Regions from separate parts of the Homo sapiens genome. Here all the other regions are linked to region 2. Evidence: fine-mapped expression QTL. A gene starts in region 2. Each other region holds a variant in brackets. All regions are shown on one strand. Distances are between the middles of the regions.

Evidence for each region. PIP is the estimated chance that this variant, and not a neighbour inherited with it, causes the effect.
Region 1: its variant is fine-mapped to the expression of GNG7 in whole blood (INTERVAL, PIP above 0.99).
Region 3: its variant is fine-mapped to the expression of GNG7 in cerebellar hemisphere (GTEx, PIP above 0.99). The same link has a PIP of 0.9 or more in cerebellum.

Annotation. Positions count from the first base shown.
Region 1 is chr19:2,673,213-2,681,387 of GRCh38, reverse strand. The region is part of intron 1 of GNG7 (G protein subunit gamma 7); the gene reads left to right. Among named protein-coding and RNA genes, the nearest start is that of GNG7, 25 kb to the left of the region's middle. RefSeq lists a silencer at 3,158-3,306. The variant C/A (reference allele first, on the strand shown) is at 4,767.
Region 2 is chr19:2,699,006-2,707,180 of GRCh38, reverse strand. GNG7 (G protein subunit gamma 7) reads left to right here and starts at 4,487. Exons shown (of 5, transcript NM_052847.3): 1 at 4,487-4,535. RefSeq lists a silencer at 4,202-4,591.
Region 3 is chr19:2,509,434-2,517,608 of GRCh38, reverse strand. It overlaps GNG7 (G protein subunit gamma 7), which reads left to right. Exons shown (of 5, transcript NM_052847.3): 5 at 2,462-6,390. The coding sequence ends at 2,587. LOC124904789 reads left to right here and starts at 4,038. Exons shown (of 3, transcript XM_047439801.1): 1 at 4,038-4,084; 2 at 4,518-4,668; 3 at 5,275-5,769. The coding sequence starts at 4,038. The coding sequence ends at 5,769. RefSeq lists enhancers at 5,149-5,228, 5,342-5,852, 5,909-6,048 and a silencer at 5,579-5,758. The variant T/G (reference allele first, on the strand shown) is at 3,234.

The DNA.
Region 1 (8,175 bases), 26 kb after region 2:
TATGGTGAAACCCCATCTCTACTAAAAGGACAAAAAATTAGCCGGGCGTGGTGGCGGGCGCCTGTAGTCCCAGCTACTCGGGAGGCTGAGGCAGGAGAATCGCTTGAACCTGGGAGGTGGAGGTTGCAGTGAGCCGAGATCGTGCCACTGCATTCCAGCCTGGGCAACAGAGCAAGACTCCGTCTCAAAAACAATAAAATAAAAAAAGTTGGTTGCTACAAAAAAAATAAAAATAAAAATTAGCCAGGCCTGCTGGGGCACACCTGTAGTCCCAGCTACTTGGGAGGGTTACACAGGAGGATCAAAGAAACAAAAACTGTCGGTTTCACTTCAAAACATGCTCCGCGTCAGTCCTCAGGGAAATGCAAATCAGAGCCATGGTGAGATACCACTTCACGCCCAGTAAGATGGCTAGAATTAAAAAACCAGAACAACAAACAATCACAAGGGCTCACGGGGAGGTAGGACATGGGGACCCTCATGCGAGCTCGGGAGACGAAGGTTGCAGTGAGCTGTGATCACACCACCGCACTCCAGCCTGAGCAACAGAGCAAGACCCTGTCTCAAAAAAGAAACGAATGAAGTCGGGAGTTCAAGACCAGCCTGACCAACATGGAGAAACCCCGCCTCTACTAAAATACAAAATTAGCCAGGCGTGGTGATGCATGCCTGTAATCCTAGCTACTTAGGAGGCTGAGGCAGGAGAATCTCTTGAACCCAGGAGGCGGAGGTTGCAGTGGGCTGAGATCTCACCATTGCATTCCAGCCTGGGCAACAAGAGGGAAACTCCATCTCAAAAAAAAAAAAAAAAAAAAATTGTAAATTTTGTGTTAAGTGTATTTTACTAAAAAACCCACTGTTAGTCTATGTGGTCACTTTTCAGAGCTTTTAATTTTTAATTTTAAAATGTTTTAATTTTTTAAAAAATAGAGACAGGTGGCTGGGCAAGGTGGCTCATGCCTGTAATCCCAGCACTTTGGGAGACCGAGGCGGGTGGATCACCTGAGGTCAGGAGTTTGAGACCAGCCTGGCCAAGATGGTGAAACCACATCTCTACTAAAAATACTAAAATTGGCCAGGCATGGTGGCGGGTGCCTGTTATCCCAGTTACTCGGGGAGGCTAAGGCAGAGAGAATCACTTGAACCTGGGAGGTGGAGGTTGTGGTGAGCCGAGATCGCACAACTGCACTCCAGCCTGGGCAACAGAGCGAGACTCTGTCTCAAAAAAAAAAAAAAAAAAAAAGAGACAAGGTCTTACTATGATGCCCAGGCTGCTCGAACTCCTGGGCTTAAGCGATCCTCCCTCCTCGGTCTCCCAAGATGCTGGGGTTACAGGCGTGAGCTGCCGTGCCTGGCTGACAGTCTTAGACTGTAAGAAGACGGTCCTGTTTTTCTCCCTGTGGGTTTCTCATCTTTCTCCACTGTGGGTCAAGCCTAATAGAGCTGTGGACACTGACTGGTTCTGTTTTAAGGGATTCTGGCATTGGATTTTGAGTTTCTTCACATCTGGGACTACTGAGCAGGTCATGTCTTTGATTTAGGTCTTGCCAAGCCCAGGTAATTTAGGAAGGTGCTACCTGGTGCCTGGAGTTAATACAATGAGTAAGGTGAAGATGCAGATGGGAATGCAAGGGGTTGAAAATTCTGTCCTGCTTTGAGGAAGTGGGACCTGGGGGAATAGGATATGTAAAAAGTGAAAGGTGGCGAATCATGGAGGGTTCTGGAATCTTCTGGAACCTTCTAGAAACTCCCAGAGCCTTCTAGAGTTTTCTGGAATGTAGGCATGGTGAGGCATTGGATTTAGAATGCCTACTTAGCCACCATGTGACTTTCTTTCTGTGTGAATTTTGAAGAAAACATGGAACCTTTCTGTTTCCTTGTGTGTCAGACAGGATAGGAATCACTCCCTAGGGTCATTGAAAAGATTGGGATGGACTACGAGGCTGTGACCTGGATGGGTGGTGGTCCTGGTTATCACTGTTATTGCTGGAATCACTGCTAATATTATTCAATATATTATGTATAAATATTAGTATTGGCTGGGTGTGGTGGCTCACACCTGTAATTCCAGCACTTTGGGAGGCTTAGGTGGGAGGATTGCTTGAGCCCTGGAGTTCGAGACCAGCCTGAGCAACATAGTGAGACTCTATCTCTACAAAATTTATTAAAAATTAGCCAGATATGGTGGTGCACACCTGTGGTCCCAGCTGCTTGGGAGGCTGAGGCAGGAGGATTGCTTGGAAGCCTAGGAAGTTGAGGCTGCAGTGAGCTATGATTGCACCACTGCATTCCAGCCTGGGCAACAGCAAGATCCCGTCTCAAAAAATTAGCATTGTACTATATGTTACTTATGTTGTTATTTTTCCTCACGGACACCATGGGCGTGGACCAAATTCAGAAAACGATGAAGTCTGTTCTTGGGGAGATGGGATAGGAGCTGTAGCTTGGCTGGGCTGGCTTAAGAATCAGGCTTGTCTGGAAATCGGAGGGACCGTCATGAGAAGCTGTTGGTTTCCGATCGTCGAAGGCTGCATGACGGAGGATGGGTTGGCTGGTGCAAAGGTCAGGGAAGGGATTCTGTTGGCATGGGGTGTAGACCTGGCGTTGAAGGCCACTCCTAGCTCTGAGAGCTGGGACCCCTTGAGAGAAGTAGTTACCAGGCTGGGGCTTGGCAGAATCAGGGTTGGAGGTGATGATCTTGGAGGCGCTGCCTGCTGCCCAGGACCCTCCGAGACTGGACACCTTATCTGATTCTTCTCCCTGTGTTGTGGATGGGGAAACTGAAACCGTATGCATTTATTACCCCATCCCAGGATTTGGTTCCTCCACCCATAATAGGTGACTGAGTTCAAAGAGCCAAGTGTGACCTGTGTACAGTGGGTGTGACCCACCTGCCCACTGTGTGGCAACCATGTCATCCCTGGAAGTTTGCATTCCGTGGCTTTTCCTCTGTTACTTTTTTGACTCCGTGCCCAAGCCCAGCAGCTTCTGAATCCAAAGCCTTGCTATGCCACAATACCTACTATATTTCAGAAAATTCTGGAAGTTTCCAGAAGCTTCTGGAAGATTCCAGAACATTCTACAAGTCACCTTTCACTTCTTGTATATCTCGCTCCCCCCAGGTTTTACTTCCTCAATGTAGCATGTGCCCTGAGATGGAAGTGACCACAGTCACACCCACTCTCTTGTTTCTTGCTGTGACAGTGTTGGCGTCGGCCACCGCCACCTCCTCTTCCACTCAGGGCCACAGTGGAAGGTCTGGATGCCTGGTGTTCTGTTTTCCTAAGGCTGCTGAACCCTAACTAACATCCACACAGAGGCCACTGGTGGTCAGCACAGGTGGCAGGGTTAGAAAGGTTGGGACTGGCTTTGTCCTTTGAGTCAGAGGGACAGTCACACTCATGTTTGTGTGACCATATGCATGTGGCTATGGTCAGTCCTATAGATTATGGCAGCGGTTATCACTCTCTGTCACTGTGGACCTTGGGGCCAGATCGTTCTCTGAGGTGGGGCCATCCTGGGCACTGTAGGGTGCTGAGCAGCGTCCCTGGCCTCCACCCACTCTATGCCAGGGACACCCCGAGTTGTGACAACCAAAGATGTCCCCAGACATTGCCCAGTGCCCCATGGGGGGCAGAATCACCCCCAGGTGAGACCCCCGGGGGTTAGGGGATTCCACAGATCCCCAAGAAACTCTGTGTCTCATGATCCTCTGTCCTCCTGAGGTTCCAGGAGGCTGCACACATTGTAATCCACACCCTGAGTGGGGAGGGAGAGAGGAGGAGAATCGCAGGAGCTGGGGCCCCCCTTGGTTTCTGCCATCCACCCCATCGGGAATTTTTTCTAGTGTCTGGTGTCAACAGGGAGCAGATACAATATTTTTCCAAATAATTAAGGCAGAGTCTCTCCCCCTTGGCATTCAGGGCTGGGTCGTTCTCTGGGGTGGGGTTGTCCTGGCCACTGCAAGGTTCTGATCAGCATCCCTGGCCTCCACCCACTCCACGCCAGGAGCATCCCTGAGTCATAACAGTCACAAATGCCCCCAGACACCACCTAGCATCCCCTGGGGACCAGAAGGACCCCTGGTTGAGAACCACGGTTGTATAGAAAGGAATTGAAGCAAAAAAAAAAAAATGGAATTCTCTGCTCCCCTGTGGCATCCTGTTGATGGATTAGATTCAGCCTCCATGCTCCAACACCGAGCTCAGCGTCTCCTGGAAGGCCCTGTCTCCAGAGGACGTTCCCAGATCCTGCTCCCTGGAAGAATTCTTGCGAGCATATATGCAAGTGTAATTAAGCGGCCGTTTTTCCTCTGTGGTGACACAGATTTGGGTCTGCAGTAAAGATATGGAGTCCCTTTAGAGCTGAGAGCCGGATCACGGCCAGGAGAATGCCTTGCTTTGAGATTCTCTGGGAATCGGGAGTCCTGCCTGGGTGGAAATCAGCCCTGGACAGGGAGGGAATGTGCAGATCGGAGCAAGTGGCTTGTTTCTTCCTGGCAACCCCAGAAGCTGTCTGAACAGCTTCTCTCTGCCACACATCTCTTTGAGTCTTGCACCCGCCCGGCTGAAAATTACACCCAACTCCTCCAGCCGGGTCTAGGAAGTGGTGCAAGCTCCTGAACCTCCATCTGCAGAATAACTAACTAGCTGTTCCTGAAAACCACCAAAGAGGCTGGGCGCGATGCCTCACACCTGTAATCCCAGGACTATGGGAGGCCGAGGCGGGAGGATCACTTGAATCTGGGAGTTTGACACCAGCTTGGG[C/A]AACATGGTGAAACCCCATCTCTACAGAAAGCGAAAACAAAAATTAGGCAAGCATGATGGTGCGCGCCTGTGGTCCCAGTTCCTTGGGAGGCTGAGGTGGGAGGATCGCTTGAGCCAGGCGGTGGAGGTTGCAGTGAGCTGAGACTGTGCCACTGCACTCTAGCCTGGGCGGCAGAGATATATCGCTGAGGGTTTGACGGACACTTCTAGATGGAAATCAATGTCTATCTGGTGCCTTGGGGGCTGTGCATGTTCACGAGGAGGGTGTCTGAACATGCCAGGATGTGGGTGCCTAGGGGAGGGTCTCTGTGGGGTGAAGTTTGGATATTTGAGGGCGCCCATGGAAAATGACTTCAACCTGCATGGCTCAAAACCACAGAAATGGATTTTCTGGCAGTTCTAGAAGCCAGAAGTCTGAGACGAAGGTGTGGGCAGGGCCGTTCCCGGCCCAGAAGCTCCCGGGGAGGATCCTTCCTGCCTCTTCCAGCATCTGGCAAGTGGCCGGCGGTTCTTGGCGCCCCTGGGCTGGTGACATCGCTCCAGTCTCTGCCTCCATCCTCACACGGCCCCCTTCCCTGTGTGGGTCTGTGTCCAAATTTCCCTCGTCTTATAAGGACATCAGTTATTGGATTTAGGGCTCATCTTAATCCAGCACAACCACATCTTAATAATAAGTCCATCTGCAGAAACCCTGTTTCCAAATAAGGTCCCATTCTGAGGCATCTGGCTCAACAATATTTTCTTCCAAATAATTAACTTTGAGTCTCTTCCCCCTGGTGCTGTGGACATTGGGGCTGGATCATTCTCTGGGGAGGGGCCATCCTGGGCACTGCAGGGTGCTGAGCAGTGTCCCTGGCCTCCACCCACTCCATACCAGGAGCTCCCCCCAATCGTGAAAACCACAGATGTCCTCAGACCTCCCCCGCCCCATTGAGACCCCCAAGTGTCGGGAATATCTTTTCTGTTTTCATATGTTTTTCTTTGTATCTTATAGGATCCTGGGGAAATATTTCCCCCAGCAGTCCCTCATAGGAGCCAATTTAGGTCATCGCTGTCCTTCAGAACTGTCCTCTGCAGAGGGGCCGCGACATCTGATATTCTCTACTCTTTAACCAGCCTGGTTTGCTAAATAACGCTCCCTGCTTCTTTACCGTCAAGCGACCTCTCCTGCTCGGCACTGCTGGCATTTCCTGGTCTTCGTGGTTGCAGATTTTTGGTGGGTCACACCGGGCTTGGTCACGAAGCTGTCCCTTCCTGGTGTCCCCTTGAGCCTGGAGGTTCCATAAAGCCAGATTCCCATTCCCGAGCCCGTGCACTTGCTGCTGTTCCTGGCTGGTTCCAGGGTTTGACCAGTCGTCCACCGTTGCAGAGAGAGACCTGTTAGTTCTTCAGGGGCACGACAGGAATTTCTGGCGTGCATCCGTCTCCGAGAACGTGATCTGTTTGGGTTCATTTATGAACACGTCCAACTGTTAGGAGTGCTTGGCGCCGTTGCGGATTTGTTTGGAGAAGCTAAAGCAGTCTGTAACCCTGTCGCGTTTTCCATGTGTTAAAACATTACCAGTCCCGAGTGTGTGAAAATCTGGATTTTTATCTATTCTAGTCTCAGCCAGAGGGGGAGGCGTTATGACAGTTCCGTTTTAGGAAAAGTAGTACGGTATACATTACGAAAGAGCATTGTTTTCTAACCGAGTCCGTTTCTGGTGACGTACAATGGCACAGTTTTCAAACTTGACTATGTAGAAAAGCTGCCCGATGGAGTCGGCGCTGTCGAGGGTGGAAATGCGAGTTACGACCATCACATAAGGAGATCTCTGTTTTCTTCAACACTCCCTGACTTTGCATCTCAGCAGGTGTCCTCTGTGTTTTAAAACAGTCACCTTGCAGGCCAGACGCAGTAGCTCACGCCTGTAATCCCAGCACTGTGGGAGGCCAAGGCGGGTGGATCACCTGAGGTCAGGAGTTCGAGACCAGCCTGGCCAACATGGTAAAAACTCGTCTCTACTAAAAATGCAAAAATTAGCCGGGCATGGTTGTGGGCGCCTGTAATCCCAGCTACTTGGGAGGTTGAGGCAGGAGGATCGCTTGAGCCCAGGAGGTGGAGGTTGCAGCGAGCTGAGATTGCACCACTGCACTCCAGCCTAGGCAACGGAACAAGACTCTGTCTCAAAAAAAAACAAAACAAAAACAAAAAACAAAAACACCAGTCACCTTTGGAGACCTTGCCCTTTTCCCAGCAGTGTGACGATTCTGATTCCCTTCAAGAGTGGATTGTACTGCTTTTGTATATTTCAAACATACAATTGTGTGTATTTCCATTATATTTCAGATTCTTTTTTCTTGTTTGTTTTGTTTTTGAGATGGAGTCTCACTCTGTTGCTCAGGCTAGAGTGCAGTGGGGTGATCTCGGCTCACCGCAACCTCTGGCTCCCAGGTTCAGGCAATTCTTTTGCCTCAGCCTCTGGAGTAGCTGGGATTATAGGCAAGGTGCCACTACACCTGGCTAGTTTTTATATTTTTAGTGGAGATGGGGTTTCACCACGTTGGCCAGGCTGGTCTCAAACTCCTGACCTTGGGTGATCCGCCCACCTTGGCCTCCCAAAGTGCTGGGATTACAGGCGTGAGCCACGGTCCCTGGCCTCAGATTTCTTTTAGGGTAGTTTTGAATTTTGGAAACAGCCTATATTAGTTAGCTAATTCTGTGTAACAAATTATCACAAATGTATCCTAAGAAAACTCTGAAATATATTGGAAATATACACAATTGTATGTTTAAAATATACAAAAGCAGTACAAGGCCCTCTCTCTAAAAAAAGAAAGAAAGAAATTTTCTAAAAAGACCAGTATCCATACATTATCACGAACTCAACTCCACACTTTATTTACATTTTATTTTTCTTTCTTTCTTTCTTTCTTTTTTTTTTTTTTTAGATGGAGTCTCGCTCTTTCACCCAGGCTGGAGTGCCAGTGGTGTGATCTTGGCTCACTGCAACCTCCACCTCCTGGGTTCAAATGATCCTCCTGCCTCAGCCTCCCAAGTAGCTGGGATTTCAGGTGCCTGCCACCCTGCACGGCTAATTTTTGTATTTTTAATAGAGGCAGGGGTTCACCATGTTGGCCAGGCTGGTCTCGAATTCCTGACCTCAGGTGAGCCGCCCGCCTCGGCCTCCCAAAGTGCTGGGATTACAGGCGTGAGCCACGGCGCCCGGTCTTTATTTCCATTTTCTTGTTTTTTCCAGGAACCCACATGCCATTGACTCCCGACATCTCCTTACACTCTGCTGGGACACTTCTCAGACTCATTGGTTTTGATGACCTGCTGGGTTTTTTTTTGTTTTGTTTTGTTTTGTTTTGTTTTTTTTTTGAGATGGAATCTCGCTCTGTCACCCAGGCTGGAGTGCAGTGGTGC
Region 2 (8,175 bases):
TGTTTGTTTGTTTCTTTCTTTCTTTTGAGAAGGAGTTTTGCTCTTGTTGCCTAGGCTGCAGTACAATGATGCGATCTCGGCTCACTGCAATCTCCACCTCCCAGGTTTAGGTGATTCTCCTGCCTCAGCCTCCTGAGTAGCTGGGATTACAGGCATGCGCCACCACGCCTGGCTAATTTTGTATTTTTAGTAGAGACGGGGTTTCTCCATGTTGGTCAGGCTGGTCTCGATCTCCTGACCTTGTGATCCGCCCGCCTCGGCCTCCCAAAGTGCTGGGATTACAGGCGTGAGCCACCGCGCCTGGCCAACATCCTCTATCTTAAGCTTAACAATGTTAATATCCCGTTCATGACATTTCACTGCAGTTTTGCAAGAGTTTGCCATTGGGCGAAGCTGGGCAGAGGGTACTGGCCCTCCTTCTATGCTATGTCTTACAACTGCGTATGAATCCACAGTGATCTCAATATTTACAATTTTAATTTAATTTTTAATGTTTCTTTTTTTGACCAGGGATACTGCTAAATTTGAAAAAGGGGAATTGGGCCAGGTGAGGTGGCTTCAAGCCTGTAATCCCAATGGGTGCCTGCAGTCCCAGCTACTCAGGAGGCCGAGACAGGAGGATCGCTGGAGCCCAGGAGTTGGAGGCTGCAGTGAGCAATGATCGAGCCACTGCCCTCAACCCTGGATGAGAGAGTGAGACCCTGTCTCAGATAAAAGGAAAGAAAGAAAGAAAGAAAATAAACAAGGCAGAGGCGGGAGGATCACTTGAGCCCAGGAGTTCGAGACCAGCCTGGGCAACATAGCAAGATCCCATCTCTAAAAAAAAAAAATGTAAAAATTAGCTAGGCATGGTGGCATGCATCTGTGGTCCCAGCTTCTCAGGAGGCTGAGGTGGGAGGATTACTTGAGCCTGGGAGATCAAGGCTGCAGTGAGCTGTGATAGAATCACTGCACTCCAGCCCGGGCGACAGAGCAAGACCCTGTGTCCAAACAACATCATCATCAACAACAACAAAAACCCAAAAAACAAAAGAAAGGGGCCGGGCGCAATGGCTCATGCCTGTAATCCCAGCACTTTGGGAGGCCGAGGTTGGTGGATCACCTGAGGTCAGTAGTTTGAGACCAGGCTGGCCAACATGGTGAAACTCCGTCTCTATTAAAAATACAAAAGTTAGCTGGACATGATGGTGGGCGCCTGTAAGCCCAGCTACTCGGGAGGCTAAGGCAGGAGAATAGCTTGAACCTGGGAGATGGAGTTTACAGTGAGCCGAGATCACATCACTGTACTTTAGCCTTGACGACAAGAGTGAGACTCCATCTCAAAACAAACAAACAAAAAACAAATAAACAACAAACAAACAAAAAACCAAAGGGAAGTTGATGGGAAAATATATGTGAAAATATGTCTATTGGGACATGCCACCTTTTCCATTTGTCTTAGGCTCCAACATGGTTTCACATGACACTTTTTCAAAATTGTTACAAATACTTGTATCTATGTATGGGGTACATGTGGTATTTGTTATATGCATAAAATATATAATGATCATGTTTGGGTATTTGGGGTGTTCATAACTTAGACTATTTCTCATTTCTATATGTTGGGAACAATTCAAGGACTCTCTTCTAGCTTTTTTTTTTTTTTGAGACAGAACTTCGCTCTTGTTGCCCAGGCTGGAGTGCAATGGCACGACCTCGGCTCACCACAACCTCTGCCTCCTGGGTTCAAGCCATTCTCCTGCCTCAGCCTCCCGAGTAGCTGGGATTACAGGCATGTGCCACCACACCCGGCTAATTTTGTATTTTCAGTAGAGACGGGGTTTCTCCATGTTGGTCAGGCTGGTCTCAAACTCCTGACCTCAGGTGATCCACCCGCCTTGGCCTCCCAAAGTGCTGGGATTACAGGCGTGAGCCACTGTGTCCGGGTGGGCGCCTGTAATCCCAGCACTTTGGGAGGCCGAGATGGGCAGATCACGAGGTCCGGAGATCGAGCCCATTCTGGCTAACACGGTGAAACCCCGTCTGTACTAAAAAATAAGCTTGGCGTGGTGGGACGTTCCTGTAGTCCCAGCTACTCAGGAGGCTGAGGCAGGAGAATCGCTTGAACCCGGGAGGCGGAGGTTGTGGTGAGCTGACGTCACGTCATTGCATGCCAGCCTGGGCAACAAGAGCGAAATTCCATCTCACACACACAAAAAAGAAAATAATAATAATAATAATAATTAAATAGAGATGAAGCCTCGCTATGTTGCCCAAGCTGGTCTCGAACTCCTGCCCTCAAGGGATTCTCCTACCTTGGCTTCCCAAAGTGTTTGGATTAGAGGCGTAAGCCACCATTATTCTAACTATTTTGAAATGTACAATACATTGTTGCTAACTACAGTCACCCTATTCTGCTATCAAACATTAGAATTTATTCTAATACTATATTTGATAGCAGAATACATCCTATTCTGCTATCAAACATTAGAATGTATTCCTTCTGTCTAACTGAATGTTTGTACTCATAACTCACCTCTTTTCATTTCCCCCCCACTCAACCTACACAACTTTCCAGCCTCTGGTATTGATCATTCTACTCTCTACCTCCATGAGATCAACTCTCTGGTTCCCACGTATCAGTGACAACATGCCCTATTTGTCTTCCTGTGTCTGGCTTATTTCACTTTTTCACTTAATATAATGACCTCCAGTCCCATCCATTTTGCTGCAAATGACAGGGTTTTATTCTTTGTTATGGCCGAATCATATTGCATTGTGTATTTAACACTTTTTTTTTTTTTTTTTGAGACAGAGTCTCACTCTATCGCCCAGGCTGGAGTGCAGTGGTGTGATCAAAGCTCACTGCAGCCTCAACCTCCTAAGCTCAAGCGATCCTCCTGCTTTCGCCTCCGAAGTAGCTGGGACTACTGGTGTGCGCCGCCAGGCCTGGCTAATATTTTAATTTTTTTGTAGAGTTGCGGTCTCAGTATGTTGCCAGGCTGGTCTTGAACTCCTGGGCTCAAGCGATCCTCCCGCTTCAGCCTCCCAAAGTGCTGGGAATACAGTCGTGAGCCACCGTGCCCTTCCCAAGCTCTATCTAGACAGTCATTCCTCTTGGGGGATGCCAGCTGGGGAGAGCCTGGAGGAGGGCAAGCAGGGAGATGGAGGTTTCTCTGTGCCCTGCAGGGCAGGCCACTGGAGTCCAGAGGATGAGCAGGGAGGTTCTTGCAGGGATGACAGGAACCCTGGGGAAGTTTATCTTGGATTTTGGCCAGCAGCTCCAATCCCAGGGCTCAGGTGGGGCGGCAAGGACACACAGTGTCAGCGCCTGATGAAATCCCTGAGGTCACAGAATATGGTGGCTCCATCTTCCTTCCAGGGCTGTGTACTGCTTTTGGAGACATACAAAGTGTTTTCCAATATTCCCAAGGGAGCTTGTGGAAAATGAAGATTCCAGGCCTGTAATCCAAGCATTTTGGGAGGCAGAGGCAGGAGAATCACTTGAGCCCAGGAGTTCAAGACCAGTTTGGGCAACATAGCAAGACCCCATCTCTAACAAAAAAAAATTAGCCAGGGCCAGGCACGGTGGCTCACGCCTGTAATCCCAGCACTATGGGAGGCCAAGAAAGGTGGATCACCTGAGGTCAGGAGTTGGAGACCAGCCTGGCCAAAACGGTGAAACCCTGTCTCTACTAATAATACAAAAATTAGCTGGATGTGGTGGTGCGTGCCTGTGGCCCCAGCTACCCGGAAGGCTGAGGTGGAAGGACTGCTTGAGCCTGGGACTTCAAAGCTGCAGTGAGCTATGACTGCACCACTGCAGTCCAGCCACGGCAATTGAGTGATACCCTGTCTCAAAAACAAAACGAAAACTAAACAAAACACAGATTTCAGGGTCCAGTTCCCTATAGGATTCTGGTTCATTCCATCTGTGTTGGGGCTCAGGAATTTGTGGATCCAGGGCCATGAGTTAGGAAACTGAGAAATCTTGGAAATGATGAGACAGGCTTGGGCAAATGACCTTAGGTTTCACCTTTCTGAGACCCAGTTTCCACCTCTGTAAAATGTGGATAGTAATCTCGCCTTCTGGCCTTATGCGGAGGGTCCCACGAGAGGGAGCCTATAAAGTCTTCAAGAAAGCGGTGCAGCAGTTATGATCACTGACATTCTTCCCCAGCAAATGAGCCCCCGGAGCTGGCATGCAGGATTCGAACCAGCTCACCTAGCGCGGGATTCGAACTCGCGAAACTACTCGCGCCTTCCTGACGTCACGAAGTCACCCTGGAAAGCCGCTCTTCGCCCCGCCCCCGGCCCCGCCCGCGCCCGGAGCCCCGCCCCACTCTCCTGGGCGCAGCCTACCCCGCTGCCTGCCCCGCGCCCCGCCCCCGCTCCGGCCTCCCGCAGCCGGGGCTCGCGATTGGCCTTGCCGGGACGCCAGGGCCCGCCCCCCGAGTGTCGGCCCCGCCCCCGCAGAGGGGAGCGAGCGCTCGCGGGCCGGGGCGGAGGGTTCGGCTGCGCGGCGGGGCTGAGGCGGCCGCGGGGCCCGAGCGCAGGTAAGGGCGCCCGCGAACCGGGCCAGGGGAAGTGAGGGCGCGGCCGGCGTCCCGGAGAGGGGACTGGGACAGCTCGGATTCGGCTGCGGACCGAGTTGGGGGTCGGAGTCGGCTGAGGAGGGGGGCTGGGTCTGGGGACCCGGGCTGCAACTGGAGGCTGGGGTTGGAATTGGGGACGGGGCTGCGCTTAGGGGGTCGAAGTTAGCTGGGGAGGGGCTGGGGTTGGGGATTGGGACTGCACTTGGGGCTCAGGGCTAGCTGGGGAGGGGGCGGGAGTTGCAGGTCGAGGTTAGCTGGGGACGGGGCAGGGGGTGCAGATCGAGGTTAGCTGGGGAAGGATTGGGTCTGGGCATTGGGACTCCACTTAGAAATCAGGGCCAGCTGGGGAGGAGGCTGGAGTTGCAGGTCCAGGTTAGCTGGGGAGGGGGCTGGAGGTGGGATTGGAGGTCTGAGTTAGCTGAGGAGGGGGCTGGGGGTGAGACTGGAGGTCTGAGTTATCTGGGGAGGGGACTGGAGTTGCAGGTCGAGGTTAGCTGGGGAGGGAGCTTGGAGCGGGATTGGAGGTCTGAGTTGGCTGGGGAGGGGTCTGGAATTGCAGGTCCAGGTTAGCTAGGAAGGGGCTGGTGGTGGAATTGGAGGTCTTGAGTTTGCTGGGGAGGGGGCTAGAGTCGCAGGTCGAGGTTAGCTGCCGAGGGGGCTTGGAGTGGGATTGGAGGTCCAAGCTAGCTGGGGAGGGGGCTGGAATTGTAGGTCGAGGTTAGCTGGGGAGGGGGCTGGAAGTGGAATTGGAAATCTGAGTTAGCTGGGGAGGACGCTGGGGATGGTGTTGGGGGTTGAGGTTAATTGGAGCGGGGAACAGGGGTTGAGTCAAGGGTGCAGCTTCTTTGAAGAGGGAGCTGGGAGTGGGGTTGAGGTTTGCAGGGAGCTGGAGAGGGGGCTGGGGATGGAGTTTGAAGTGGGGTTCATTGGAGAGGGGGCTGCAGAGGGAATTAGATGTTGAGGTTGTCTGGGGAGAGGACTGAGGAATGGGGTTGGTGAAGATGGGGGGGTGTGATTGACGGCCCAGGGGTTAGGGTTAGCTGAAAAGGGGCAGAAGGACAAAGCTGGGGTGAGCCAGGGAGTGGCTGGAGCATACAGGTGGGGGTCAGGCTTGTTCCAGAAAGGGTCTGGGGGCTATCAGGGGAAATGGGGAGCTTGTGAGTGTGTGGGGTGGAAGGGGGTTCAGGGAGAAGGAAGTTGGGGTGAGTTAGTGAGAAGGGAGGTGGGGGTAAGGTCCCAGGCTGGAGACACCTGGGGGCAGGTGTTTTGCTAGACATTGACTAATCAGGAGGAAAACGGGGTGTGGGGAGGTGTCTCAGGTAGGATCCAGTTAAAAGGAATTTGGAGAGGACTCACCCCTCTACTTTTGGGGGAGATGTTAATTGTTTGCTCTAGAACTGGGCACGGGGCAGAACCCCCTGGGGAACAGTGAGTTGAAGGAGACGGGAGTTCGGAATACTTTTTGAGGTTTATTTCTAGGATATAGGGTGCCAAGGAGAACGCTTCAGGAAGGAGAAAGGCTCCTGTCGGTGACTGAATTTTTCAGGAACTAAAGTGGGAGTTTTTGGGACGGTGCTATTGAGCGACGTGGGTGGCACTTTATTTTTCCTGGGGAGCGGGGGTTGCTAGGGGTTGGGAGGTGGGCGGTGGAAGACAGGCTTGATGAACAGAGGCAGCGGATCCCCAGCTAAGCGTCTTCACACGGTTGCTAGGTGTCAGCGAGGCAAATGCCAAGTTCACAAACTTGTTCCCGTCGTGGGATGCTGCGATCTTGCCTTGATGGAGTGTCGGGGGCCTCTGGGAGGTGCGCCTGTGTGTGTTCCGACCCAGCCTCTCGCTGCGGATTTGGCTGTATCATCTTTTGGAGGTGTTGTTTACTCCCCTGCAAAGCGGGAATAATAAAAACAGTAGCATGTGCCTCTCAGGGTCGAATTACGGGATGTATGCATGGACTATTTCCTAGCATATAGTGAGGGTACCTGAAGCATGGAGAATAATGGACTCAATCCAGTTTTTTTCTTTGGTGGGTTTGGAGATGGAGGAGTGGGATGACTGGGTTGTCACAGAGGAGAGGAAAGGAAGTGACTGGAACTTGACTCTAGTCCTGCAACCTTAGGAGCACACATCAGGGTCACCCCCAGAAGCTTTAAAAAATAACCTGCATGGCTGGTTGTGGTGGCTCATGCCTGTAATCCCCGCGCTTTGGGAGGCCGAGGCGGGTGGATCACCTGAGGTCAGGAGTTTGAGACCAGCCTGGCCAATATAGCGAAAACCTGTCTCTACTAAAAATATCAAAAATTAGCTGGGCATAGTGGCGTTTGCCTGTAATCCCAGCTACTTGGGAGGCTGAAGCAGGAGAATCGCTTGAACCCAGGAGGTGGAGGTTGCAGTGAGCCAAGATCACGCCATTGCACTCCAGCCTGGGCAACAGAGAGAGACTCTGCCTCAAAAAAATAAAGGAAAAAAAAAAAAAGGACTGCAACAACAACAAAAATATGTCTTATTATTATTGTTATTATTATTATTATGTTGAGACAGAGTCTCAAATATGGAGCCTGTTTCCATATTATTAAAAGTGAGTAAAAAACTGAAAAGAAAGAAGACTTTGCCCACACCTGGTGGCAGGAGAGTCTCAAAGCTCGTTAAGTAACAGATGCACCTGTTCAAGAGAAGGCTGCCTGGGTCATTCTGATTAGGGGCACCCCGTAAGGAACCACATCGAGCTGTGATTATACGCTTGAAATTTTGAGTTTACAACTTCAGTTCATGGGGTGCGTCTGGGTCTCTCTATCCCAGCGCTGCGGACATTTGGGATCTGATTGTCCTCTGGGGTGGGGCCTTCTGGGCACTGCAGGGTGCCGAGCAGCATCCCTGACCTCCACCCACTCCACACCAGGAGCTCCCCGCATTGTGACAACCACAGATGTCTCCGGATATCACCCAGCGTCCTGTAGGGACAGAGATACTCCAGTGTGGAACCCTTGTTATAGACAAAACTGATTTATTTTCTCCTTTAACGACCTCATCTCCCCTTTGATGTGCAGGAAGTGGGGTCATTCAGAATTGAGGATTGCTTTTAAGTCATTTAGTGCTGTCATTCGGAGAGGGGAGAAGTAAGGTCTCACTGCTTTTAGAAAACATTAGAAATGCCTACTTATGGCTGGGTGCGGTGGCTCACGCCTGTAATCTCAGCACTTTGGGAGGCCGAAGTGGGTGGATCACTTGAGGTCAGGAATTCAAGACCATCCTGGCCAACATGGTGAAACCCCATCTGTACTAAAAATACAAAAACTAACTGGGCGTGGTAGCACACGCCTGTAATCCCAGCTACTTGGGGGGCTGAGGCAGGAGAATCACCTGAACCCAGGAGGCAGAGGTTGCAGTGAGCTGAGATTGCACCACTGCACTCCAGCCTGGGCCACAGAGTGAGACTCTGTCTCAAAAAAAAAAAAAAAAAAAGGCTACTCCTTTCTAGGTGGGCCTTTTATGTGGCTTTTGAACACTTAGTACTGATTTAGAAGATGGCCTGAAGTTGTCAGTTGCAAGCATTGGAAGATGACAATGTTTGCAATGTGCTTTCTTGGTTTTAACCTGGAACGTG
Region 3 (8,175 bases), 190 kb after region 2:
CGGGCCACCTGAGGTCAGGAGATTGAGACCAGCCTGGCCAACATGGTGAAACCCCGTCTCTACTAAAAATACAAAAATTACCCTGGCGTGGTGGCGTGCGCCTGGAGTCCCAGCCACTTGGGAGGCTGAGGTGGGAGAATTGCTTGGACCCAGGGGGCGGAGGTTGCAGTGAGCCGAGATCACGCCACTGCACTCCAGCCTGGCTGACAGAGTGAGACTCTGTCTCAAAAAAATAAATAAATAATAAAAATGAAAATTATGGCCAGGTGTAGTGGCTCACTCCCGTAGTCCCAGCTACTCAGGTACTCCCAGCTGAGGCGGGAGAATCACTTGAGCCCAGGAGGTGGAGGCTGCATTGAGCTATGATAGCACCACTGCATTCCAGCCTGGGGGACAGAGCGAGACCCTGTCTCAAAAACAGATAACAAAGGCACCTCCGTGAAGCGACACTGCGATCCTTCTCGGATCATCCCCTCACCTCTGCCACATCTAATCCTCCCCCTGTGATCGCCCTCTCGCCTTCCAGGAAAGAAAGCAAGGAGAGAAAGGTCGCTGAGTCCCACAGAGACACAGTTACCGGTTACGGGATGAGATCCAGGGCCAGATGGACGTGTCCCCGTGTAGCCTGACCCAGGACACCGGACACCCCAGCCCCAGCCCTGCTGGGGTGAGCTAAGCGGGGAGTGGCAGCGGCACCCCCAAAGGCATGGCCAGGAGAGACGGGCGTGTAGCCTGGGGCGGGCTGGCAGCAGCCCGGGGCAGGGGGTCCCTCCTGTGACCGGAAGCATCAGCCCCTCAGAGGGTTGGAGTCATCAGGGGGTTCAGGCTGCAAGAGAAACATGGAGACGGGCTTATCTCGTCCTCACCGGGCCCAGCCCCCTGGCCGGGTGTCACCGTGAAACCTCCCTCAAGCTCATCAAATGTGCAGGCAGCGTTTTCCTATCAGGACCTTCCTTCCTTGGGGTGAGAATGAGGTCTTGGACTCCGAAAACGGGGTCCATCTGTCCCTGACCCTTTGTGTTCAAAATCTGGCAACGCTTGCTGAAGGAAGCTCAGCCTTTTCTTTTTTAAAAAAATATTTTTTAGGCCAGGTGCCGTGGCTCACGCCTGTAATCCCAGCACTTTGGGAGGCTAAGGCAGGTGGATCACTTGAAGTTAGGAGTTTGAGACCAGCCTGGCCAACATGCTGAAACCCGTCTCTACTAAAAATACAAAAATTAGCTGGGCGTGGTGGCAGGCACCTGTAGTCCCAGCTACTCAGGAGGCTGAGGCAGGAGAATTGCTTGAACCCGGGGAGCAAGAGATTGCAGTGATCACACCACTGCATTTTTCTTTTTTTAATTTTGGGAAAAGACACACATAAATTTATTTATTTGTTTATTTATCTTAATTGAGACAGGGTCTTGCTCCATCCCCCAGGCTGGAGTGCAATGGTGTAATCTTGACTCACTGCAGCCTTAACCTCCCAGGCTCAAGCAATCCTCCAGCCTCAGCCCCCCAGTTAGCTGGGACTACAGATGCCCACATCACTATGCCTGGCTCATTTTTGTATTTTTTGTAGAGATAGGGCCTCACTGTGTTGCCTAGGCTGGTCTCAAACTCCTGGGCTCAAGTGATCCTCCCGCCTCCGCCTCCCAACATGTTGGGATTACAGGTGTGAGCCACCGCACCTGGCCAAGACACATATAAAGTTTACCACTAGTGATATTTAATATAGTCACAATGCTGTGCATCCAATCACGTTTATTCCAGGACATTCCATCACCCCAAAAGGAAACCCTGTCCCCCATCAGCCATCACTCCCCAGCACCGGCACCCACGCATCCCCTTCCTGTCTCTGTGGATAGGCCTGTCCTGGACATTTCATAGAAATGGGATCACACGGCCGGGCGCAGTGGCTCACACCTGTAATCCCAGCACTGTGGGAGGCTGAGGCAGGCATATCGCGAGGTCAGGAGTTCGAGACCAGCCTGATCAACATGGTGAAACCCTGTCTCTACTAAAAATACAAAAATTAGCTGGGTGTGGTGGTGCATGAAGGTAATCCCAGCTACTCGGGAGGCTGAGGCAGGAGAATCACTTGAACCCGCGAGGTGGAGGTTGCAGTGAGCCGAGATCGTGCCACTGCACTAGAGCCTGGGCGACAAATAGAGTCTCTGTCTCAAAAAAAAAAAAGAAAGAAATGGGATCACACACTGTGTGGCCTTCTGTGTCTGGCATCTCTCACTGAGCATGAGGCCCTTGAGATGCATCCACGTTGTGGCCTATGTCAGAGCCTCACTCCTTTTCATGGCTGAGTAATATTCCAGCGTGTGGACGGGCCGCACTGTTTGCCCACGCCCCCATCAATGGGCTCCTGAGCTGTTTCCGCCTGTGGCTCTTGGGAATGGTGCTGCTGTGAACCCGGGTGTGCCAGCCTCTTCTTATGTCTCCTCTGTCTCCTCCTTGTGCTCAAACACAGGTCTCCAAAGCGGCGTCTGACCTCATGAGCTACTGTGAGCAACATGCCCGGAACGACCCCCTGCTGGTCGGAGTCCCTGCCTCGGAGAACCCCTTTAAGGACAAGAAACCTTGTATTATTTTATAACTGTGTTCTCATATGTTCTCTCTCTCTCTCTCTCTTTCTCTCTCTCTCTCTCTGTCTCTGTCTCTGTCTCAGGCAGGGCATCATTCAGTAATTAGCTCAAACAAAACATCTCAAGTCCCCAAAACCTTTAATTCCAAAAGAAATCCCCCCTCTCCCCGCCAAAAAAGGCGTTCCCACCGCCCGGATGGGGTAGAATGGACCTTGTAGGTGGAGATGAATTTTCAGGTCCGACCCCATGGCCCTCTCAGTTTGGGCCAAAAGGGATGGAGGCTTTACGGCCACTTCCCGTTCGGAATAACTGAAATCCCCCAGCGATGGGGTAACAATTTTTTAAAACTCTCGATTGCCGTTTCAATTGTGGACCGGCGCCGAGGGGGAAAGGGAGGTGACTTCGCCCGGTGGCAATAGTTCCGGGAGAATTGGCCATTGGTAAAAAGACTTCATAGGGTCACTGGAATGCTTTGTGTTGTTTTTAAGTAGAGGTAAAATTGAGATGGGGGGCGGGAGGTGACATCATGAAGTTTTTTGGAAATATCTCTTTATTTAAAAAATTGTTACTCCATACGGCTAAACTCGGATTGTGATGGTTGAACCCGTCGCTAAACTGCACGATCCTGCAATGAATGCACGATGGAGTGTGGGGGTC[T/G]GGAGGGGGCTTCGTCTATGAAAAGTTGCCAAGTGTGACTCCCCTGCATGATGTTAGCCATGGGTCCTTTCTGCAGGGTCCCCTCTGTGCCAGAAATGGGTTTTCGGGACTTGCCCCAGGGAAGCCGTCACCGGCCCGGCCCATCATGTTTTTGGATTTTTTTTTTTTTTCTTTTTTTGAGATGGAGTTTCATTCTTGTTACCCAGGCTGGAGTGCAGCTGCATGATTTCAGCTCACCGCAACCTCTGCCTCCCCGGTTCAAGCGATTCTCCTGCCTCAGCCTCCCGAGTAGCTGAGACTACAGGCGTGTGCCACTACGCCCGGCTAATTGTTGTATTTTTAGTAGAGACGGGGTTTCACCGTATTGGCCAGGCCGCTCTCAAACTCCTGACCTCGGGATCCGCCCACCTCGGCCTCCCAAAGTGCTGGGATTACAGGCATGAGCCACCGCGCCCAGTGTGTTTTAAGCATGAGGCATCCGCGTGGCTGGGAGAGGCTTTGACCATCCTTGGCTCTTCCAGGTTGTCCTACCCTCTGGCATCCACCATAGACGTTTTTCAAACAGAAAATGCAGGCTGGGGAGCCGCGGCAGGGCGGGTGGGGCTACCCTGTGCTGCTGTGTGTACAAAATTGTTCCATGATCTTGGAGTGACTCTGAAGGACTCTGGGAGGTGAGACGTTGTCCCGGAGATCAAAACGTCCGCTCAAAACGTTACCCTGTCGCTCGAACCCGATCTTTTTGCTTTTCCACCCCCGTGCAACCCAGGACGGCTGTCTGAGGCCGGGAGATGCCTTAGACGCAGGATGGGCCACTCCTCCCAGCGGCAAGTGGAAATCGAAGATGTCATGGGGTCGGGGGGAGGCTTCTGAAAGATGACTGCGTCCTCCTCTGCGGCACGGACGGGAGCAGGTGCAGCCACATCTTCCAGGGCCTGCCGGCATCACCTGCGGCCACACCTGAGATGGACCCCACGCAGCCCTGATCGCAGGAGGCCTGGCCGCCCCGACCCCCTCCACGGGGCTGGCCTAGAAGCAAGTAGTAGAATAAAACTAGCCTAGTCCTGTCCCTCCGGCCCCAGTGGAGACAGGCGTCTAAGAACCCGTGCCGAGAGGGTTCCTGGACGGCCGCCCAGGTCCTCCGTGCAGGCCCGTGAGGCGGGGATCCCTGCTTGGCTCACTTCCTGAGCTGGTGACTGCCAGGGTTCCCACCTCGCCAAGGCTAGAGGGCTCCGGGTGTGTGTGCAGGTGTCGGGGGAGTGACCTCCACTCCTCAACCTCGGGCAGCTCCCACAGGCCACAGCCGGGCTCCCCACCCCCGGCACCCAGCTCTCTACGGCAGGTCCGGGAGGGCTGGGGCTTCGGGGAGCCCTACCCGCCAAACCTGCTGTTGGCCCGGGAGAGCCCCAGAGGCTCCCGGAGACTGCAGCCTCCTGTGGTTGGGCTGGGAGCCGGCAGGGTTTGGGGTGTGGGCGTCCCCACCACGCATAGCAGGAATGGCAGGAAGGGACAAAAGCCTGTTCCAGAGACCCTGGGAGGACCCCAGGCAGGGAGAGCCCGCCTGCCTCCACCCTTTCCAACAAGCCATCTTGGTAACTGGGAACAAACACACCCCACCCCGTTTTTCCTTAAAAGAGGCCTTAATCCCCGAGCCCCCGCTGCCAGGGCAGAGGGAGGAGGGGGCACAGCTGTGCCAAGCCCGGCCCCACTGGTGTGTCCTCACAATGTGACCCCAGAAATGCCAGCAGGGAACGGAGGCTGCTGCAGAGACGCAGCCCCAGGCAGCCGGGGCTCCTAGGCTGGTGCAGATGGTGGGGTTAAACGGGCTGAGCGTTCCAGGTAAACTGAGGCTCGGGGAGGGGAAGGACAGGCTGGCCTCTCCTTCACTGTCCACAGGGCCTTGGGTTCCCTGAGCTGTCCAGACCCCACCATCTCCCGGACCCCAGGGAGGTGGCCATTGCCAGAAGCCTGTGGGTTTCTTTCTAGCTTGGGGGATTAAAAAAAAAATTCTCCACTTTTTTTTTTCTTGAGTAGACTTCAGTGACCACACTGTGGAAAATACCTTTGCAGACGTGGCACCCGAGTGCACACACCGACCGCCACATGTGCTTTTCTGCCGGGAATCCCTGGGGTGAACGCATGTTTTATGGGCGTTTCCAGGAGCGCGCGTGCACCTCCAGACGGGGAGCTGGCGGGCGGGGGTGGCAGCAGCAGCTCTAGCCTTGGGGGGACAAGCCTCTCTCAGCTACGCCAGGGGAAAAGAGAGTTAAGGACACTCACCCCCACCCACGCACACACACAAGGCAGCGTCGGGTGGGAGAGAGAAGGCCGTTTCTCCTTCTGTAGCCTGGGTCTCCCACGGGCCTTCCCCGCTGCTGAGCGAGACACCAGTAGCCAGGTGAAGGGCCACAGCGGGCCAGGCCCCGACCCTGTTGTGACCCACCTGGGCACCTTCCCGGACCAGCTCCGCCTCCCCTGCCCTCCTCTCTCCAGGAAGGAGCCAGAACCCTCACCCCTCTCCCACCCTCCCCAGGGGTAACCCCAGGCCAAGCACAGATAGCTCAGCTGCGACCTCTGGCCTCTGGGGACATAAACGGGGCGGCTGGGCCAGGGCGGAAGGTGCTCCTGTTTCCCTCCTTCTGCGTGGTCCCTTTGACGGGCCGGCCACCGTGTCCGAGGCGCAACGCTAGGCCTCCAGGCCACGCATCCATCTCCAAGTTAACAGCCCGTCCTGCCCAAGTTCTGGGGCAGGTAGGAGAGGGCCGTCACACACCTGTCCGCCCGTGAGTGACCCGGGGGGGCTTCCGGGTGGAGGTGGAGCCACCACGCCCTTCCTCAAGGGGTCACTTATTAAAAAGTCCACGGCCTGAGGCCAGGCCCTCTGCACAGAAGCCATATGCCGGCCAGCCGCGCCTCCTCCTCTGTCCACGGAACCGCTGCCCATCTAACCTTCGTAAAGACCTGTCTCCTGTTTCCAGCCGCCGCCTGTGGTTCTAGCAGGTTCTATGCCATCTGCATTGGGATGTCTGGTTGTTTTTATTTCTGACTTTTTTAAAATTCCAGGTGTGCCGCACCCACTTTCTCGCAGTGTTTTAATATTGTGTGGAGTTGTCGATACCACGTGAATTCATACACAATAAAAAGCCTCACTCTCCCTTTTCTCCTGGCTCTGGGCTGTTCCTTCTCTCTCTGGCCCGGGCCTTGCTGGGGAGGGAGCTCCTAGCATGCAAGCAGATGCCCCAGGCTTGGCTCCAGGCATGGGGACCCGCGGCCCCACACCATCCCGTCCACCCTCCCTTCACCGGCCCAGGGAAGAGGTAACAGGAGGGGACCCCTGGAGGCAGCACCACAAACCAGGGACGTTCAGGCCCAGTGGGCTTTCGGATTTGTACTTAGAACATCTAGGAGGGGCCGGGCGCGGTGGCTCAGGCCTGGAATCCCAGCACTTTGGAAGCCCGAGGCGGGCGGGTCACCTGAGGTCAGGAGTTCGAGACCAGCCTGGTCAACACGGTGAAACCACGTCTCTGCTAAAACTATAAAAATTAGCTGGCCGTGATGGCAAGTGATTATAATCCCAGCTCCTCAAGAGGATGAGGCAGGAGAATTGCTTGAACCCAAGAGGCAAAGGCTGCAGTGAACCAAGATCACGCCACTGCACTCCAGCCTGGGCAACAGATCAAGACTCCATCTCAAAAAAAAAAAAAAGGCCGGGCGCGGTGGCTCACACCTGCAATCCCAGCACTTTGGAAGGCTGAGGAGGGCGGATCATGAGGTCAGGTGTTCGAGACCAGCCTGGCCAACATGGTGAAACCTTGTCTCTACTAAAAATACAAAAAAAAAAATTAGCTGGGCGTGGTGGTGGGCTCCTGTAGTCCCAGCTACTCGGGAGGCTGAGGCGGGAGAATCACTTGAACCCAGGAGGCGGAGGTTGCAGTGAGCCGAGATTGCGCCACTGCACTCCAGCCTGGGCAACAGAGTGAGACTGTGTCTCAAAAAAAAAGAAAAGAAAAGAAAATCTAGGAGGAAGGCTGGGCTCAATGGTTCACACCTGTAATCCCAGCACTTTGGGAGGCTGAGGTGGGCGGATCATCTGAGGTCAGGAGTTCAACACCAGCCTGGGCAACACAGTGAAACCCTGTCTCTACTAAAAATATAAAAATTAGCTGAGTATGGTGGCGGGTGCCTGTAATCCCAGCTGCTTGGGAGGCTGAGGCAGGAGAGTTGCTTGAACCCAGAAGGCAGAGGTTGCAGTGAGCCGAGATCGCACCACTGCACTCTAGCCTGGGAAACAAGAGTGAGACTCTGTCTCAAAACAAAACAAAACAAAGAAAGATTAAGAAGAGCTTTTGGGCTCTATGCTGGCAGCAACACAGGAGGATACAAGCTGTCACATGCTGCCAAAGGACCTCTACGCGGGTACAACCTTCCCTGAAAGTGTTTTGGCGGCTGGGCGCAGTGGCTCGTGACAGCTATCCCAGCACTTTGGGAGGCTGAGGCAGGTGGATCACCTGATGTCAGGAGCTTGAGACCAGCCTGGCCAACATGGTGAAAGCCCGTCTCTATTAAAAATACAAAAATTAGCCGGGAGTGATGGCGGGCACCTGTAATCCCAGCTACTCAGGAGGTTGAGGCAGGAGAATCGCTTGAACCTGGGAGGTGGAGGTTGCAGTGAGCCGAGATCGCACCACTGCACTCCAGCCTGGGCAACAAGAGCAAGACCCCGTCTCAGAAATAAATAAATTAATTAATTAATTAAATAAAATGTAAAATGTAGGAGTTGTGTAACCATCACCTCTGTGTAGTTCCAGAATACTGTCATCACCCCAAAGACATCCCATCCCCATCAGCAGTCACTCTCCACCCCTCCCCAGCCGCAGGCCACCGTGAATCCCTTTACTGTCTCGGTGGATTAGCCTGTCCTTCGCAGTTCACATAAATGGGATCA